Homo sapiens: one gene and its partners. The protein of the gene in region 1 interacts with the protein of each later gene in a pairwise test. Each region holds a gene or a part of one and is shown on either strand. Other genes may lie near its edges.

The links. Proteins that work in one complex are often made in the same cells at the same time.
Region 2: the proteins of UBQLN1 (region 1) and ITPRIPL1 interact in binary tests that used the Homo sapiens proteins (3 or more experiments, as listed by UniProt).
Region 3: the proteins of UBQLN1 (region 1) and DPYS interact in binary tests that used the Homo sapiens proteins (3 or more experiments, as listed by UniProt).
Region 4: the proteins of UBQLN1 (region 1) and MRM1 interact in binary tests that used the Homo sapiens proteins (3 or more experiments, as listed by UniProt).

What each region holds. Positions count from the first base shown.
Region 1 is NC_000009.12:83,697,032-83,702,666, reverse strand, and holds part of UBQLN1 (ubiquilin-1), read left to right. Parts: intron 1-5,635. UniProt on the Homo sapiens protein: Plays an important role in the regulation of different protein degradation mechanisms and pathways including ubiquitin-proteasome system (UPS), autophagy and endoplasmic reticulum-associated protein degradation (ERAD) pathway.
Region 2 is NC_000002.12:96,322,847-96,328,116, forward strand, and holds the start of ITPRIPL1 (inositol 1,4,5-trisphosphate receptor-interacting protein-like 1), read left to right. Parts: upstream 1-2,470; 5' UTR 2,471-2,719; exon of another isoform or gene 2,720-2,900; 5' UTR 2,901-2,993; coding exon 2,994-3,003; intron 3,004-3,350; exon of another isoform or gene 3,351-3,761; coding exon of another isoform or gene 3,762-3,795; coding exon 3,796-5,270. UniProt on the Homo sapiens protein: Functions as a ligand of CD3E, inhibiting TCR-CD3 complex signaling to regulate T cell activation.
Region 3 is NC_000008.11:104,425,556-104,430,122, forward strand, and holds part of DPYS (dihydropyrimidinase), read right to left. Parts: exon of another isoform or gene 4,147-4,567; coding exon 3,990-4,146; exon of another isoform or gene 3,849-3,989; intron 3,170-3,848; exon of another isoform or gene 2,743-3,169; intron 2,567-2,742; coding exon 2,425-2,566; intron 1-2,424. UniProt on the Homo sapiens protein: Catalyzes the second step of the reductive pyrimidine degradation, the reversible hydrolytic ring opening of dihydropyrimidines. Can catalyze the ring opening of 5,6-dihydrouracil to N-carbamyl-alanine and of 5,6-dihydrothymine to N-carbamyl-amino isobutyrate.
Region 4 is NC_000017.11:36,605,957-36,609,464, reverse strand, and holds the end of MRM1 (rRNA methyltransferase 1, mitochondrial precursor), read right to left. Parts: intron 1,796-3,508; coding exon 1,663-1,795; intron 1,567-1,662; coding exon 1,447-1,566; intron 1,223-1,446; coding exon 1,050-1,222; 3' UTR 501-1,049; downstream 1-500. UniProt on the Homo sapiens protein: S-adenosyl-L-methionine-dependent 2'-O-ribose methyltransferase that catalyzes the formation of 2'-O-methylguanosine at position 1145 (Gm1145) in the 16S mitochondrial large subunit ribosomal RNA (mtLSU rRNA), a universally conserved modification in the peptidyl transferase domain of the mtLSU rRNA.

The DNA.
Region 1 (5,635 bases):
AATTTGGTATGAACAAAATAAATATCTTAATACTTTTGATATATTATGTATTGAAATAGTATTTTGCAGATCGTGAGTTAAGTAAAATATCAAAATTAATTTGACCTTTTATTAAAAACTTTTTTTTCAGTATGGCTGCTTAAAATTTTTAAATTACTTGTGGCTTATATATATTTCTGCTGGACAACATCTTATCCAGAAGGTTGGATTGAATCAGTATAGCAAGATATCTGAGAAAAAAAATGTCTGTGAGATCATTGTTTTCTTATTTGCTTTGTTCTAATACTGGACAGCTGAAAAACTCGTTATTTAATGATTCTGATTAACAGAGATTGCTTAGCTTTTTTTAAGAAAGAGCGTAATTGAAGTGTAATTTGCCTACCATACAGTTCACCATTTTAAAGTCTGTAATTGATGTAATACATTCACAGGGTCGTGTAGTCAATTTTAGAACGTTTAGAACCCTCAAAAAGAAACGCTGTACCCTTTAGCAGTTGCCCTTCGTTTCTCCCTGGGCCCCCCAGCCTTAGGCAACTACTGATCTATTTTTTGTCTATAGATTTGCTTGTTCTGGGCGTTTGTTGTAAGTGGAATCATGTGGTCTTTTGTGATTGGCTTTCACTTAGCATAGTGTTTTCAAGGTTCATCCCTGTTGAAGCATGTGCCGGTACTTACTTCCTTTTTATTGCCGAATAACATTCCATTGTGTTGCCAACAGCATTCCACATTTTATTTTTCTATCACGTGGTGGACATTGGGTTGTTTCTACTTTCTGGCTATTGTGACTAATGCCTCTGAACACTCATGTATAAGTTTTTGTGGGGACATAACGTTTTCATTTTTCTTGGGTGTAGATCTTGGAGTGGAAATTGCTGGGTCAAAGCTCTATGTTGAGCTTTATGAGGAGCTGCCAAATTATTTTCTAAGGTGTCTGTACCATTTTACATTTCCACTAGCAATGCATGAGGATTCCGATAACCACATTCTCGGTAATACTTATTACTGTCTTTGTGATTATAGCCATCTTACTGGCTGTGAAATGGTATCTTACTGTGATTATTTTGCTTTTTATTTTCATTATTATTTTTGCTGGGGGCACTCTGAGGAAAACTGGACAGCCTGCTAGACAAATTTGCTTTTTGTTATCTGAGCAGTAGTTCTCACTGTGGTTTGGGGAGTCCCCATACCCTGTTAAGGGTACCATGAGATGAAACTATTTTCATAGTAATTCTGAGATGTTATTTTTATTTTTCAGTCTAATTTTCTCAAAACTGGGCAGTGCACTTGGCTAGAGTCTTTAAGGTGTGGGATATGACAACAGATGTGAAAATCCAGCTGTCTTCTATTACAAGACTAAAGTGATTTCCAAAAATTTAAAATAATGCCACTCTTATCACTGAGAAAATAGTTATTTTTCATAAGGATGTTATTTTTATTAATATATAATGTATTATTTTTAAATGAATTTATTTTTAAAGGTTATTCAGTTTTAATTTGTAATATTATAAATATCAACAGCTATAACCTAAACAAGCAAAACTCTTTGGAGTTCTGAAGTTGTAAAATGGTGTCCTGAGAGCAAAAATTTCTGTGGTGGCGTATTTTATAGATTACGTACTTAAAATATCGGGTAGTGGCTCCAATAAGTTGCCATTACCTCTTGCCTAGAAACTGCAGTAGCCTACTGGTCAGTTGCCTGACTTCTATAACTCTCCCACCAGCCATTCCAAGAGTGATCTCTGAAAAACGTTAATCAGAGCATGCCACCCTCTGTGTAAAGCTAATGGCTCCCTGTTGGTCTTAGAATATATAATGGAGTAGCGAGGCCCTGTGTAATACGGTTCCATGCCCTCTCCATTTTTTGCAGATGCCTTCTTTCTTTGCTTGCTTGGCTGACTACATTGACCTTCTAGTTCCCTGACCTGTTAATACTTTTTTTCCTGCCTGAGGACTTCTGTACAGTTTGTTCTTGCTACCTAGAATGCAAGAACACTCTTTGCCCATTCCTTTTCCATCTTTAAATCTTAATGCAAAGGTCAGTTTCTCCAGGTAGTATCTATTTCTGATTGTCCAGACTGGATTGGGATCCCCTGTTGGATTTCTCACAGTAGCCTGTTTTTGATAAGAATTCATCACAACTAAAAATTGTATATTTATGTGATTCCTTCTCTTTAGAGAGGGGCTGTGATTGTTCACCATTGTGTTACCAGAGCCTAGGGCTCAATAAATTATTTACAGATGAATCTAGTCCATTATGTACAATAATACATATTCAGTAATAACTACTTATTGTTGAACCTTTACTGAGTGTAGTATGTACATAATCTGGTAGCTCCCAGTCCTTTTGTGGAAGCTTCCTCTTAAGCTGTTCCCCCCAGGTCACCACTCTCCAGGCACAACTCTTGACTGCTTCATGATGTTCACTCTTGCTTCTCTGCCTGGAACATTACTCTTCTAGAACCACCTTTCTTAGCTGGAGATTCTCATCTGAACCACAGAGCACAGAAAGTGATATGAATAGCTATCCATTTCTTTTCAAAGATGGTTCATAATGAATATAATTTTAGATGTATAGGAGAGAAGTTAATTCATTACATAGTGAGTGGTTTGTTGGTAAATGCTGGTTTATCAACCCGTTCTTCAGGAAAAACACTGATTTGTAGTGTTTGCTGGATTTCCATGATGTAAATATTCTCACTGTGGCAGATTTCAAGATACCGTTATTAAACTGGCTCACAAAATTTATGAAAATTTAAGAGCCATTGCTTATAATGGGTGCCTTAGGGCAGAGGCCAGCAAACTGGTAGTCGAAATCTATTGTGCCCATTTGCTTATGTGTTATCTATAGCTCCTTTCAGAATAGACCATGTGGCTGGTAGAGCCAAAAATATTTACTGTCTAGCCCGTAACAGAAAGTTTGCTTACCCTGGTATTAGGGCTTCCTGTTAATATATCTTGTTCATCAAAACACTTCTCATTGGAAATTTTTACCATGACTTATTTTTTATAGAAATACAATGTGAGCTGGGCTCAGTGGTTCATGCTTGTAATCCCAACACTTTGCGGGGCCAAGGTGGCAGGATTGCTTGAGCACCATGGCTCAGTGATCATGGCTCACTGCAGCCCCCACCTCCTGGAGTTCGAGACCAGCCTGTCTACAAAAAAATAAAAATTTAGCTAGGTGTGGTGGCACACACCTGTAGTCCCAGCTAGTCCAGCAAGGTTGAGCCCAGGAGTTTGGAGGTTACACTGAGCTATGATTGCACCGCAGCATTCCAGCTGTGGTGACAGAATGAGACTTGGTCTCTTAAAAACAAAAAACAGTATGAGCCACATATGTAATTTTCCTATTAGCCACTTTAATCAAAAGGAAGGACTGAAGTCAATTTTTCAATAGTGGTGACTCACACATAACAAAATTTATCATGTTAACCATTTTTAAGGGTTCACTTCAGTGACATTAAGTACATTCACATTGTTGTACAATTGTTACCACCATCCGTTTCCAGAACTCATCTTGCAAAACTGAAACCCTGGACCGTTTAAACAGTAACTCCCCATTTTCCCCATTCCCCCACCTCTAGCAACCACCATTCTTCTTTCTGTCTCTGAATTTGACTACTCTAGGTATTTCATATAAGTGGAATAAGACAGTGTTTGGCCTTTTGTGATTAACTTATTTCCCTTAGTATAACGTCCACAAGGTTCATTTATGTTGTAGCATGTGTCAGAATTTACTTTTTTTTTTTTTTTTGAGACAGGTCTCACTTTGTCACCCAGGCTGGAGTGCAGTGGCACAATCATGGCTTGCTGCAGCCTCCACCTCCTGAAGTTCAAGTGATCCTCCTGCCTTAGCCCCCCAAGTAGCTGGGACTGCAAGCTCACATCACCATGCTTGGCTACTTTGTATTTTTTTGTAGAGACAGGGTTTCACCATGTTGCCCAGGTTGGTCTCAAACTCCTGAGCTCAAGCGATCTGCCCCCTTGGTCTCCCAAAATGCTAGGATTATACAAGTGTGAGCCACCGCACCCAGCCAGAATTTACTGTGTATGACTGAATAATATTCCATTATATGTATGTACCACATTTTAAAAATCCATTGATCTGTTGCTGGTCGCTTGGGTTGCTTCCACCTTTTGGCTATTGTAATTTTAATATGCTTTATTTAACCCAGTATGTCTAAAATATTTTAAGGTGCAATTGATATAAAGACTATAAAATATCTTGCATTTTGAAATACTAAGTCTTTGAAATATATTTTGTAATTTACACTTAAGCATACCTCAGTTTGAAGTAGCCACATTTCAGGTGCTTAATAGCCATATGTAGCTAGTGACTGCTGAATTAGCACAGCTAATAAAGCTTTCAGGATGTGCTTCCACCTGCCTTTTCTCCTGTTTTCATTGCATTTCAGCCAGTTTGTATTGTCTCTTCCCCTACCCTCAAATATCACTGGCTCTTTCTTCCCCTTTTTGAACCTTTGCAAATGCTGTTAATGACAATGACATAATGGCCAATATTTATTGCAGGCATGATTTATAAGGCATGATGCATTATATTTTTTTAAAATGTCACATAACTTTATGATGAAAGCACTATTATTATCCTTTTTTTAAAAAATGAAGATGCTGGCCAGGCATGGTGGCTCATGCTGCTAATCCCGGCACTCTGGGAGGCCGAGGCGGGTGGATCACATGAGGTCAGGAGTTTGAGACCAGCCTGACCAACATGGAGAAACCCCGTCTCTACTAAAGATACAAGATTTGCCAGGTGTGGTGGTGCATGCCTGTAATCCCCAGCTACTCGGAAGGCTGAGGCGGGAGAATCGCTTGAACCTGGGAGGTGGAGGTTGCAGTGAGCTGAATCGTGCCATCGCACTCCAGCCTGTGGGATAAGAGTGAGACTTCGTCTCAAAAAAAAAAAAAAAAAAAAGGGTACAAAAAATAGCCGCGTGTGGTGGTGCATGCCTGTAGTCCCAGCTACTTGGGAAGCTGAGGTGGAAGAATCTCTTGAATCTGCGAGGCAGAGGTTGCAGTGAGCTGAGATCTTGCCACTGCAGTCCAGCCTGGGCGACAGAGGGAAACTGTCTTTTTTTTTTTTTTTTTTTTTTTTTTGAGACAGTGTCTTGCACTGTTGCCCCGGCTGGAGTGCAGTGGTGCAATCTCAGCTCACTGCAACCTCCGCCCCCTGGGTTCACACAATTCTCTTGCCTCAGCCTCCTGAGTAGCTGGGATTACAGGTGCACACCACCACACCCAGCTAATTTTTTGTATTTTTAGTAGAGACGGGGTTTCATTATGTTGGCCAGACTGGTCTTGGACTCCTGACCTCATGATTCGCCTGCCTTTGCCTCCCAAAGTGCTGGAATTACAGGCGTGAGCCACCGCGCCTGGCCTATGTCTTAAAAAAAAAAAAAAAAACCAGAAGATACTGAGACTCATATTAATAATGTGATCAAATTCATACACATATTAAGTAGTAGACTGTAGATTCAAACCCAGTACAAACTTGGGAGGCCTCACCGATCCACTGCCCCAAACTGCCTTGACTTTCCTTTGACTGGCTTTTCAGTCTTTAAAGTTCATTGAATAGCTAGGTGTGGTGGTGCAAGCCTGTAGTCCCAGCTAATTGGGA
Region 2 (5,270 bases), on another chromosome or scaffold:
AGATGCTGGTGAAAATGGGGAGAAAAGGGAACTCTGATATGCTGTTGGGTAAACTAGCACAGCTGCTATGGAGAATAACATGGAGGTTCCTCAGAAAACTACAAGTAGAACTACTCACATGATCTAGCAATCCCATTACTTAAAATCTATCCAAAGGAAAGGAAATCATTATATCAAAGAGAAATCTGCACCCTCATGTTTATAGCTGCACTATTCAGAATAGCCAATATGGAATTGACCTATGTGTCCAACAATAGATGAATGAATAAGGAAAACGTGGTATATGTACACAATGGAATGCTATTTGGCCATAAAAAAAAATGAAATCCTGTCATTTGCAGCAACTTGGATGGAATTGGAGGATATTAAGTGAAATAAGCCAGGCACAGAAAGATAAACACCACATGTTCTCAGTCACATGTGGAACCTAGAAAAAGTTGATGTAATAGAAGTAAAAGGTAGAACAGAGGATGCTAGAGGCTGGGAAGGGGAGGGGAAGGTGGTGATAGGGAGGGATTTGTTAAAGGATTCAAGATTATAGCCAGATGGGAGGACTAAGTACTAGGGTTTCACACCACTGTAGGTTGACTACAGTTAACAATAATAGACCAGGCATGGTGGCTCATGCCTGTAATCCCAGCACTTTGGGAGGCCAAGGTGGGCAGATTGCTTGAGCTCAGGAGCTCGAGAACATGGTGAAACCCCCACTCTACTAAAATACAAAAAAATTGCCGGGCTTGGTGGTGTGTGCCTGTAATCCCAGCTATTTGGGAGGCTGAGGCAGGAAAACTGCTTGACCCAGGAGGTGGAGGTTGCAGTGAGCTGAGATGGTGCCACTGCACTCCAGCCTGGGTGACAGAGCAAGACTCCGTCACACACACACACAAAATAATAATAGTAATAATATATAGTTTCAAATAGCTAGAGGGAGGATTGAACCTTCCCAACACAAAGAAATGATAAATGTTTGAGATGATGGATATGCTAATTACCCTAATCTGAAATTATACATTGTATGTATGAAACATGACTGTGCACCCTATGAATATGTACAATTATTATTTGTTAATTAAAATAATACAACTTTAAAACACATGGTCTTAAACATTATCGTTTTTGCACACTCTGAAGCATATATTTTGCATCCTGACATCATGTCATAAGTGAAAAGATAAGAGACTTTCATTATTACTGCTCCAAATGCATGAATGCTCAATAACCTGTGATCTATTTTTCATAATTCACATTTATAAAAAGTAACTTTGGAACTTCAGTCATTGTCAGCTAGCAGACAGTTTTTCCTGCTCCACAATTAAATAAGTCAGTATTCTTGGAAGTATTGTACAAGTTGTTTGGGAGCTCCCTACACATTGCCACTGGATAAGAAGACCTGAAACCCAGCCATGTGTGATGGCTTACACATATAATCCCAGCATTTTGGGAGGCCGAGGCGGGCAGATCACCTGAGGTCAGGAGTTCGAGACCAGCATGGCCAACATGGTGAAACCCCGTCTTTACTAAAAATACAAAAATTAGCTGGACATGGTGGCATACACCTGTGGTCCCAGCTACTCAGTAGGCTGAGGCAGGAGAATCACTGGAACCTGGGGCGGGTAGGCTGCAGTGAGCCAAGATGGTGCCACTACACTCCAGCCTGGGTGACAGAGCGAAACTCTTTCTCAAAAACAAACAAACAAATAAAAACCCTGAAACTTGTCTTTCAGCAGAGGGATTTTAGTGAGTTAGTATCAAGGGGTCATCACTTCCTTTTCTTCTTGGATAGCTGACACAAGACAGGAAGACTAAGGGCTCTTTCTGATATCTGAAGATCCCTTTCAGGAAACCCATTCTGTTGTGTTTCTTAAGGTGTGATAAAGCTTGTCCAGCCTCCACACCGTATAAAGTTCTCCTTTATACACCCATGTATCAGCAGAGCTGCCCTGTAGGTAGGATTCTTACTCCCACGTGGCCAGTGAGTAGCAAGCAAGGCCCCAAGTAAGGTCTTTGGGTGCTGTCTGTTCTTTCATGAGAGTCACTTTGATATGAGAAAGGGGTTGGGGAAAGATGCCTGAGTCTGGGCGTGGGCTGGGAGGGAAGCACATTTAGGGTGCTGAAACCACATCTTATTTCGTGTGCCATTTTGCTCAGGGCCAGCCCGAAGTGAGAATGGCTTTTCTCGGTCAATTCCTAGTTTTGCCACCATCATCCTTACACCCGAATCCTAGTAAGTCTGTTCTCCACTGAACTGAGCTGAGTGCAGCTGACAGCAGGCACGGCGGTGCCCCATTTGCCACCCCAGGGAGGCCGAGCAGCGGAGAGTGTGTGGCCACGGCCCCTCCACTCTCCCAGCAAACCCACGGGGGCCTCGGTGCGGACAGAGACCCGGTGTGGGGAGGCCGCTGCCCCTGCACGCTGGGCCACGGGGGTTTGGGCGGGGAGGAGCTTGTACTGGGTGGGCGGGGAGGAGCCCGGACGGCGGGAGCGGCTGCGGCGCGCGGGCGCCCTCGGAGCCGCGTGCTGGGGGTCGTAGGGGCCCACCGCGCTCAGCCAGACGTTCAGACGCTCGGACAAGCATGGTCTATAACCCAGGAAAGGGGAGCAGGGCCACTCCCGCGGGCGGCCCCAGCGATGAACCGGACGCCCCCACCCTGCCGGGAAAAAAGCAGTGGCGGTCAGGCCGCGCTGTCTCTTTAAGATCGTGTTCCTACTAACACTGACGGTGAGTAACCTGGCCCTGGGTCCCGGGAGACATCCCGAGGTAGGATGGGCCCTTGGCCTCCTACGGATAGGCGGGTGAGAGTACAAATCTCTGGGCGTGGAATTTGGGGAAGTTATGAATGGGGGGAGGGTCGGGTTCCGATTTGAGCCAAAGCCCCCAGGTACCTTGTACATTTTAACAGGGCTCCTAGAGAGGGCGGGGAGACGAAGCAAGGCCAAGTTCCAAAGGGAGGATAGGCCCAGCTGGCTTCAGCGTCCACACGGCATAGTCCTTCATGAATGTTGGTAAGCGCGGTAGCTTGTGAATTAGGGTGAGTGGCAGAAGCTCGGGCTTCACGGGTGGGTGGGGAGGCAGTGGAACTGACCACTGCCGGCTGTCAGGTAGGCCTTGGGCACCTGGTTCTGCAGACAGTTTTCTGAACTAAGAAGTGAAGCTAGCCTGCCCACACACGGGGTATCCACTAGCCCCTTAGGAGCAGAGAGGGCACCGTAGCAAGCAGCTGGCGGCACTGTGCCTCTCTTGCGCTCCCTGGGCAGAGAGGGAGAGGCTGAGTGATGAGGCTCACTTCATACTGGGTGAGCAGAATGAAGACTGTGAAGTCACAGAGGAAGTGGAATGCTACAACTGGCTGCCGGGGCAGAGGAAAGGTGTCACCCAGGCAGGTTCAGGGCTTTCTGGCTATAAAAGGGAGCCTCTGGGATCAGCAGGTCATATCTGGTGCCCATGGTTGACTGAGGAGTCGGGTGAGGCCACCCTACCACAAGGGTCCCCCTCCCCATCCTACACAGGAATGAAAACAGTCCCATGTACACTTTCTGGAAGCCTAAATACCACCCACACCATGTGGAAGGAAAGCAGGAGAGAGACTGAGTGGCACATCCTTTCGCCCTCTTTTCTCTCGAACCTCCTCCCAGGCCGACCACCCTTGCTGTGTCCAAGCCAAGCTCTGTGGGCTTTCTGTTCCTCCTGAGTAGCTGATTTTCAGAATTTGGGGTACCAGGGCTCTGGGGAATGTGAGCTAGAGAGCAGATAAGTCTGGAAGATGACCACTGACTCCTACTCTCCTACTTCTCCAGATGCAGAGGCCTCCATGGCTGTGATAAGCCTGCTGTTCTTGGCAGTGATGTATGTTGTTCACCACCCTCTGATGGTCAGTGATCGGATGGACCTGGACACATTAGCCAGGAGTCGGCAGCTGGAGAAGCGAATGAGTGAGGAGATGCGCCTGCTAGAGATGGAGTTTGAAGAGAGAAAGCGAGCCGCTGAGCAGAGGCAGAAGGCAGAGAACTTCTGGACAGGAGACACATCCAGTGACCAGTTAGTGCTGGGGAAGAAAGACATGGGGTGGCCGTTCCAGGCCGATGGCCAGGAAGGGCCTCTGGGCTGGATGCTGGGAAACCTGTGGAACACTGGCCTCTTTTGCCTTTTTCTCGTCTTTGAGCTCCTGCGACAGAACATGCAGCATGAACCGGCCTTTGATTCCAGCAGTGAGGAGGAGGAGGAGGAAGTCCGTGTTGTCCCTGTCACCTCTTACAACTGGCTTACTGACTTCCCCTCCCAGGAGGCCCTGGACTCCTTTTACAAACACTATGTCCAAAATGCCATCCGTGACCTGCCCTGCACCTGTGAGTTTGTGGAGAGTTTTGTGGATGATCTCATTGAGGCCTGTCGGGTGCTCAGCCGCCAAGAGGCTCACCCACAATTGGAAGACTGCCTGGGCATCGGGGCTGCCTTTGAGAAATGGGGAACCCTCCATGAGACCCAGAAATTTGATATCCTGGTGCCCATTGTCCCCCCACAGGGCACCATGTTTGTCCTGGAGATGAGGGACCCAGCCCTGGGCCGCCGCTGTGGCTGTGTGCTGGTGGAGTCAGAATGTGTGTGCAAGCGTGAGAAACTCCTAGGGGACGTGCTGTGCCTGGTGCACCACCACAGGGACCCCTCGGCAGTCTTGGGGAAGTGTAGTAGCTCCATCAAGGCAGCTCTCTGCACCGGCTTCCACCTAGACGTGTGCAAGACTGTGCAGTGGTTCCGGAACATGATGGGCAATGCCTGGGCCCTTGTGGCCCACAAGTATGACTTTAAACTCAGTCTCCCACCGTCTACCACCTCCTGCAAGCTCCGGCTGGACTATCGCTCAGGCCGCTTTCTCTCAATCCACTTGGTCCTGGGGGTGCAACGAGAAGACACCTTGGTCTACCTGGTGAGTCAGGCTCCTGACCAGGAGCAGCTCACCAGTGTGGACTGGCCTGAGTCCTTTGTGGCCTGTGAGCACCTGTTCCTGAAGCTGGTGGGGCGCTTTGCCCCCGAGAACACCTGTCACCTCAAGTGCCTCCAGATCATTTTAAGTCTCCGGCAGCATCAGAGCTTACCCCATGGAGCATCCCGCCCCATCCTCACTTCTTACCATTTTAAAACAGCTCTCATGCACCTCTTGCTACGGCTGCCCCTCACGGACTGGGCCCACAACATGCTCTCTCAGCGGCTCCAGGACATTCTCTGGTTCTTGGGCCGTGGCCTCCAGCAAAGGTCCCTCCATCATTTCCTCATT
Region 3 (4,567 bases), on another chromosome or scaffold:
AGGCAATCCACCTGCCTTAGCCTCCCCAAAGTGTTAGGATTACAGGCATAAGCCACCACACCCAGATGCAATCCTTTTGAAAAGATAAAAAAACAACTCAAGAGGTTCAATTTTATGCAATTGAAGTTTTACATGAACCAACAATTATGGATAGTCTATTGCAAGAGATTTTAATGTGGACAGAATTCAGAGGGGTGTGGCTCCTCTAAAATAAAATTGGAAAGTGTTAGGGGTTTATCCCTATTTATATGGTAAGAGGGTACTAAAGGTTTATTTAATTATCAAACAATGCTTGCCTTAAAAATGACTAAGAACCATGCCCTGAAAGTAATATTCCCATAAGTAAACCATATTAATGTTTCATAAAATGACATGGTTTTCTATATATTATTAAGAACTATTCAGTCACTGTAAAGCCATTTATATACCAGGGAACTATATAGATTATGAAAATCTGCTATAATAAAGATATTCATTGTAAAACAGAAGTTCAAGTGGAAGCTTGAACTTTTATCAAGAAAATCTAAGTGAAGAGAAGTCATCTGGGATGGTTAGAGTTAGGGTGGAGGAAGGGGGGTGAGGAAAATAATCAGCAGAAGATGAGGCTATAGAGATGTTTTGAAGATCTAATTGTAAGTTAATGATTCAACTATCATCCAATAAGTAATGGAGGCAAGTAAAGGGTTTTTGAGAGAACAATAGCACAAACAGAACTTTATTTCTAAATGAGAACTCCCATTCAAAACCTATCCTCCCTCTATAATATTGTAAAAATAATAATAAAAGCATTGTCAGCTGTTCTCAGTACAGAACAAGAGTTCTTGTACTGGAGTAAAGAATACACTGTAGCAAGTGAGACTCTGGAGATGGGGACCAGCTGTGAGATTACTGCAAAGGTCCAAACAAAATATGAGCCTCCAACTAGAATGGTAGCAACGAAGAAAGAAATAAGGAGGCCCTTTGGAAACAAAATTGACAAGACTTGGTGAATAATTCATTAGAGTTAGAAGTAGGTGGTATGTGTAGGGTAAAAGCAATTGAAGAGGATTCTGAAGTGTGAGATATAATTAATGTGTCATTTGAGGGAGGCATCCTAGGAGATGGGTGAAAAGGGCATGACACTGGGGACCAGAAGTCTAACCAGGCAAGTCCCCTCTGCTAGTCTTCACAGCTCCACATGTCAACTGGCTGGACAAGTTAACACATAGACATTTAGTCATGTGATTCTTCTCCGTCCTCAGGGAGAAGTTTTGTAGTCATGGACATTTAAATTTTTTTCCAGACTTTAAATTATTACTTTTGTGACTTCATATAGCAATTTTAAAAACATGATATCCAAGGATTCTTTAAGAAGTGACATCAGGCTGGGCACGGTGGCTCACGCCTGTCAATCCCAACACTTCGGGAGGCGAAGGCGGGTGGATCACCTGAGGTCAGGAGTTTGAAACCAGCCTGGCCAACATGGTGAAACCCCCTCTCTATTAAAAATACAAAAATTTGCCAGTCATGGTGGTGCACATCTGTAATCCCAGCTACTTGGGAGGCTGAGGCAGGAGAATCACTTGAACCCAGGAGGTGGAGGTTGCAGTGAGCCAAGATTGCACCACTGCACTCCAGTCCGGGCAACAGAGTGAGACTCCGTCTCAAAAAAAAAAAAAAAAAAAGAACTGACATCAACAAAGATTTCATGGAAAGGAGGTATGAGCATAACGAATACGCTTCGTGTATTTTTTTTTTTTTGTGATGGAGTCTCACTGTGTTGCCCCAGGCTAGAGTGCAATGGTGCCATCTTGACTCACCACAACCTCTGCCTCACAAGTTCAAGCAATTCTCCTGCCTCAGCCTCCTGAGTAGCTGGGATTACAGCCACGTGCCACCATGCCCGGCTAACTTTTGTATTTTTAGTAGAGATGGGGTTTCACCATGTTAGCCAGGTTGGTCTTGAACTCCTGACCTCAAGTGATCCACCTGCCTTGGCCTCCCAAAGTGCTGGGATTACAGGTGTGAGCCACTGCACCCTGCCCCTTCGTGTATTTTTTATCATTTCAAGCATTCGTGCCAATGACACATGACGCACTGGAATTCAAGAGCATGAGAAATCAAGCAGAAGGGCTATGCCATTTCAGAGAATTGAAGAATAACCCTCTTTGTATGCAATCTTAATTCATCCTCTAATGTCTCCGCAAAATAGTGCGATGCATCGTCTAAACTAAAATAAACTATGCAGAGAAGATTATTTCTTTGCTGATGCTATACTGAGGGATGGAATGGTGGTCGAGGTGATAGTATTGCATTCCTAGTATCCTCCCTAGTAAAAACAATCAAAAAGCTTCTCTATGAAAATTTGTGCCACTCTGGTCCTCAAATGGGCAGGATCCTGGCTGAAGAACTAGGCAAAGCAAGGCTGGAACCTGTGAAACCCACCACGCCTTTTTCCCATATTACGGACATCCGATCTTCAACACCATTCACCCCATTGGGGATCTTGGTAAAATCATCCTTCCCAAGAGCTTTCTGGCAGGTGTTGAAAGTGCAGTTATCAGTCCCTGTTGTGGTTAGATCATCACTGTAAAAGAAAAAACACGAGAGTGATGGGGTGAGTATACAGAATATGTTAGGAGGAAACTGCCATAACCTTTCCTAATCTCCTGGCTCCCTTCTCAATTGAAGTCAGAAAAATCCAATGGAGAATGAGCAGTTTTTTCAAGAACATATTTCATCCCTCTCCTGTCTCTATTCTAGGAAGCACTTTCAGAGGACACACTGATCGGAAGCATGATCCAAGATGGGTTAGGAAACCTGAGTTCTAAGCTCAGCTCCATCACTTAACTAGCTCTGTGATATGAGCTTGTCCGAGACTCCATTTCTCATCTAGAAATGAATAGTCACATGTACTTGATGAAGATAACTTCAGAATCACCAGCAAATATGTGAGAGAAAACTCCTTGTGAGCAGAATGCTGCATCCACAAAGACATCACCATGGTGATCCTCATGAATGGAGGGCAGGCCCTCCGGGGCAGTCCCTAGCCACACGGCCACACTGGGATGAACAGAGGGTGAGACTGGCTGGCGATGCTGATATTACCAGGGACAGGAATCCTGCTTTGACTTGTGAGTAATCTTGGGGATGCTGAATCATGAAGGAGGAAGGAAGCTGAAAAGAATGGGTAAGTGAACTCTTGTACGGTCTGTCATGAAAAACTCTTAGCTTGAGACTGAGTATCTGTGAATGGGGAGTGTCGGGATGTCCATGAAGGATAGAATTTTCTTTTCTCTTTTCTTTTTTTTTTCGAGACAGAGTCTTGCTCTGTCACTCAGGTTGGAGTGCAGTGGCACTATCTCTGCTCACTGCAACCTCTGCCTCCTGGGTTCAAGTGATTCTCGTGCCTCAGCCTCCCGAGTAACTGGGATTACAGGCATAAGCCACCACGCCCAGCCAATTTTTGTATTTTTAGTAGAGATGGGGATTTGCCATGTTCACCAGGCTTGTCTCAAACTCCTGGCCTCATGTGATCCGCCCACCTCAGCCTCCCAAAGTGCTGGGATTACAAGCATGAGCCACTGCATCTGGCCCAAGAATGGTAGAATTTTCAAGAAAAATGATCATATGTTCCCAGAAAGTAACAGGGTTAACCTAGTTCCCATATTATATCAGCATAGAAAAAAATTCAACAATATTCTGATAAAAAGTAAGGTGTAATGAAGAGCCCTGGGTTTGGGCAACAAGAGATGAAAAAAGTCAGAAAAGAGTAAAGTTTCAGTGAAAACGATCTGATTTCTGAGAGTCTAGGAAAGGCTTTGACAACATATCACAGCATAATTAAGTCAATGTTTTTTGCTCTGCAGGTGAGGGGTACCCAGGACCTGACAGGTCAAGTAGAAGAGAATACTGGGAGGTTAGTGGAGGATCCAGATGGGAGGACGAGCTCCCTTCTACCCAAACCTTCTTTTGGCAATACACTTCCCAGTCATCTGCAAAATGATTACTTAGCCAACAGATTCATGAGGAAGTCGGGTGTTGAGGGGTCTGGTCGCAAAGGTGGACCCATGACATGGTGGGCTGCATGGTGCCATTCTTTATTCCAGTAGTGAGTGCCATCTGTGCCAAGACTGGCTGCTATGGGTTCACCATAGACCACCTTCCCTGGAAAGATTAAAAGAAGCATTCATCACTTTAATTTTATTCTTAAGAGGACCATATGACAAACACATAAATATTAATCTTTTCTCCCCTAGCAGAGGGTAATATCTACAGTTTAGCAGAATCCCAAACTATAATTTACTTTTGTGGACAGGATTTAAAAATCCATGATGAACATAAATATGAATGAGAAATAAACTTCTGTAAGTATAAGCTATTCATATTTTAGATCCATTTTTATGGCCATATAACCTAGAAAAAGCTGGCTGGTACAAGAGCCATTCTAATGAAACCTTCTCCAAAACCCTACCAGATAAATGCTATTGTTATCTCCATAAAAAGATGAAAATAAAGCTATGGAGTAATAATTTCTCTACATTTACATTACATACAGTCTATGTGGTGTGGAGAAGGTAGAATTTGA
Region 4 (3,508 bases), on another chromosome or scaffold:
AAATGTCAAGGGTGTGGAATTTGAGTCCACCTGCCCTAGTGGTGATTCTCAGCCTTGGCTGCACATTAGACCAATGGTGGCGCTTTCGAAAGCCGGATGCCAGGTGGCGCCACACCCATCATGTCAGACTCTCTGGTGTCAGTGTTGGGTTTTTTAAAGCATGCCAGGTGGTTCCAATGTGCCACCAGGACAGAAACACTTCTATGCTCCTCACACTGCTGGCTCCTGCTGCTTTCCTGGGACCCGAGGGGAGGAGTGCCAAATCTGTCTCGGTTGTACAATCAACGGCAAGCCTGCTCCCAGTTCCTCCCCTTGAAGGGAACTGACTCAGTCACCCGTGGGGGGCCCCCGTGGGGTGGGAGGTGTTTGCTAATTTCCCGTCGCCTCTCATGGGGCTGCAGCCAGGAGTCTCCCCGCAAGGAGGCTGTGGAAGCTGCCTGAAGACTGGACCGAAGAGCGAGGCTGCCACCTAACGGAGGAATTGGCCAGAATCTCCCACGTGCTGAGTGATGTTTTATTTGAGCCTCACAACAACCCTGTGAGGTAGGTGCGGAGTCCCGCGGCACAGAAAGATGAGGCCTGCGCTCAAGGCCCCAGGGCGGGGCCGTGTGTGGGCCTGAGGTGCGCACTGTCTACTCCACATCAGGGCCCCGCCCTCCACCCCCCACATTCTCATACACACATTTGCCACAGGCAATGACTGGTTCAAGAGGAACGGGTCCCCTGGGCTGGGCTGCCTGCCTCTCTGCAGATGTCTAAACTTTCCCTCAACTTCCAGGCAGGGCCTGGGAACAGATTCCCTCCATGCTAGGCCATCATGGCTTCCCATGGAAATTAACAAATCACCATGTCCTACTACAGGTCCAACATCACAACAGGAAACAGCTTCCTCTGGTGTCCACCGCAGTCCCCTTCCCCCCCCCCCAGACTGTGGTCAATAAACATGGGCCTGGTGCACACTCAGGCAGAGGCTCCCCGCACACTGGAGCCGGCGGAGGCAGGTGCGGCCGTCCCTGACTCCAGCACATGAACACTGTGGACAGTCCACGTCAGCCCTCATTTTGCCTCTCTTTCTCTGGGCCTGAAGACAGCCCTGGGTGCTGAGCCATGCTGAGCCCTTCAGACCTGGCTGAGGGTTCTTGGGGGTCTTGGAGAAGCTGCCTTCTCTCCCCCTCTGTGGGGAAACCCTTCCTCTGGCTGCAAATGGAGTGAAGAAGAATTCCTGCACAGACACAAGGACAAGGGAAGAGAGGACGGAGGAGAAGGATGATGTTTAGAGACCTAGACATTCAGGCAGCCCCTCATCTCATCAACGGGATGTAATTTCCCCATTTTGTACATAAAGCAACTGAGGCACACAAACAGCCAGCAAATGGGATTAGAGGGCATCAAATCCCACCTGCGTGATTAGAGGGATAGAGGAAAGGGAAAGGGGAGTAGACTCACCTGCAGCCACAGAGACGTTCAAGGACTCAAGTCCAGGAGGCAGCTGGCGCCGGGGCAGGATGGTGAGGAGAAGCTGGCAGGAGGCCTGCACCTCCTGGGATAGACCTGAGCCCTCATTCCCTGCAGGGCGTGGGGCTGAGGGTTAGGGTTGCCCAGCTGGACACCCAGTTGCTCGGGAAATGTAATCTGGGCACAAACGCAGGGACATCCACCTACCCAGCACAAGGAGAGTAGGCCGTTCCCAGAGGAACTCCAAGCAACTCATGATGGGGATCTCGGAGGACTGGGGATCCTCTGTGCTTGGGCAGCCCACCGTGCCGGCCACGAGCCAGCCCTGCTGGGCTTTGGTCTGAAAGGGGGAAGAAGATATGTTCTAATTCTTTTTTTATTTTAATTTTGAGATAGGGTCTTACTCTCGCTCAGGCTGGAGTGCAGTGGCACGATCACAGCTCACCGCAGCCTCAACCGCCTGGGTTCTGGTGATCCTCCCACCTCAGCCTCCCAAGTAGCTGGGACTACAGGCACTCGCCACCCCACCCGGCTAGTTTTTGCATTTTTTTTTTTGAGATGAGGTTTTGCCATGTTGCCCTGGTTGGTCTGGAACTCCTGGCTTCAAGCGATCCTCCCACCTTGGCCTCCCAGAGTGCTAGGATTACAAGCGTCAGCCACCATGCCTGCCTCTCCTATTCTAATTCATCAAATCTTCATCAGAGGCTGTATGCAGTGGCTCAAGCCTGTAATTCCAGCACTTTGGGAGGCTGAAGCAGGCAGATTACCTGAGGTCAGGAGTTCAAAACTAGCCTGGCCCAGGCACGGTGGCTCACGCCTGTAATCCCCAGCACTTTGGGAGGCCAAGGCAGGGGGATCACCTGAGGTTGGGAGTTCGAGACCAGTCTGAACAACATGGAGAAACCCCGTCTCTACTAAAAATACAAAATTAGCCGGGCATGGTGGTGCATGCCTGTAATCCCAGCTACTCAGGAGGCTGAGGCAGGAGAATCGCTTGAACTCGGGAGGCAGAGGCTGCAGTCAACCGAGATTGCGCCATTGTACTCCAGCCTGGGCAGCAAGAGTGAAACTCCATCTCAAATTAAAAAAAAAAACAAAAAACCAGGCGCAGTAGCTCACGCCTGTAATCCCAGCACTTTGGGAGGCCGAGGCGGGCGGATCACCTGAGGTCAGGAGTTTGAGACCACCCTGGCTAACATGGTGAAACTCCGTCTCTACTAAAAACACACAAAAAATTAGCTGGGTGTGGTGGCACATGCCTGTAGTCCCAGCTATTTGGGAGTCTGAGGGAGGAGAATCGCTTGAACCCGGGAGGCGGAGGTTGCAGTGAGCTGAGAGCACACCACTGCCTCCAGCCTGGGCAACAAAGCGAGACTCCACTCTGTCTCAAAAAAAAAAAAAAGACTAGCCTGAGCATCATGGTGAAACTCTGTCTCTACTAAAAATACAAAAATCAGCCTGTAATCCCAGCTACTCAGGAGACACGAGGATCTCTTGAGACCAGGAGGCAGACATTGCAGCGAGCTAAGATTGCGCCACTGCACTCCTGCTTGGGTGACAGAGTGAGACCCCCATCTCAAAAAAAAAAAAAAAAATTATCCATCAGAGCCCTGGCCAAGGAAGAGCCCAGCCTTGCCCATACATTCATTTATCTGCTGATCCAGTCAATTAGTCAATAGTTATTAAGCACCTAGCATGGGCTCTGTTCTAGGCACTGAGGACAGGGCACTGAACAAAACAAAACAGACCAAAATCCCAGCCTTGTGGAAGGGCAGGTGGGGATGGACTCACTGAGGTGACATTTGAGTGCAGACCTGAAGGAGAAGGAGGAGCACCGTGCAGACATCTGGGGCAAGAACATTCTAGGCAGAGAGATCAGCAAGCACAGAGGCAGGTGCCTCCCTGGCATGTTTGAGAACAGTAAGGTGGCCAGTGGGAAGAGAGGCGTCAAGACAGAAGAAGGAACAAGAGCCACATGAGGTATGGTCTCCAGGGCTACTGGAAGGACTCTGCCTTTGAATCTGAGCGGTACAGAGGCTTTGAAAGGTTTTGA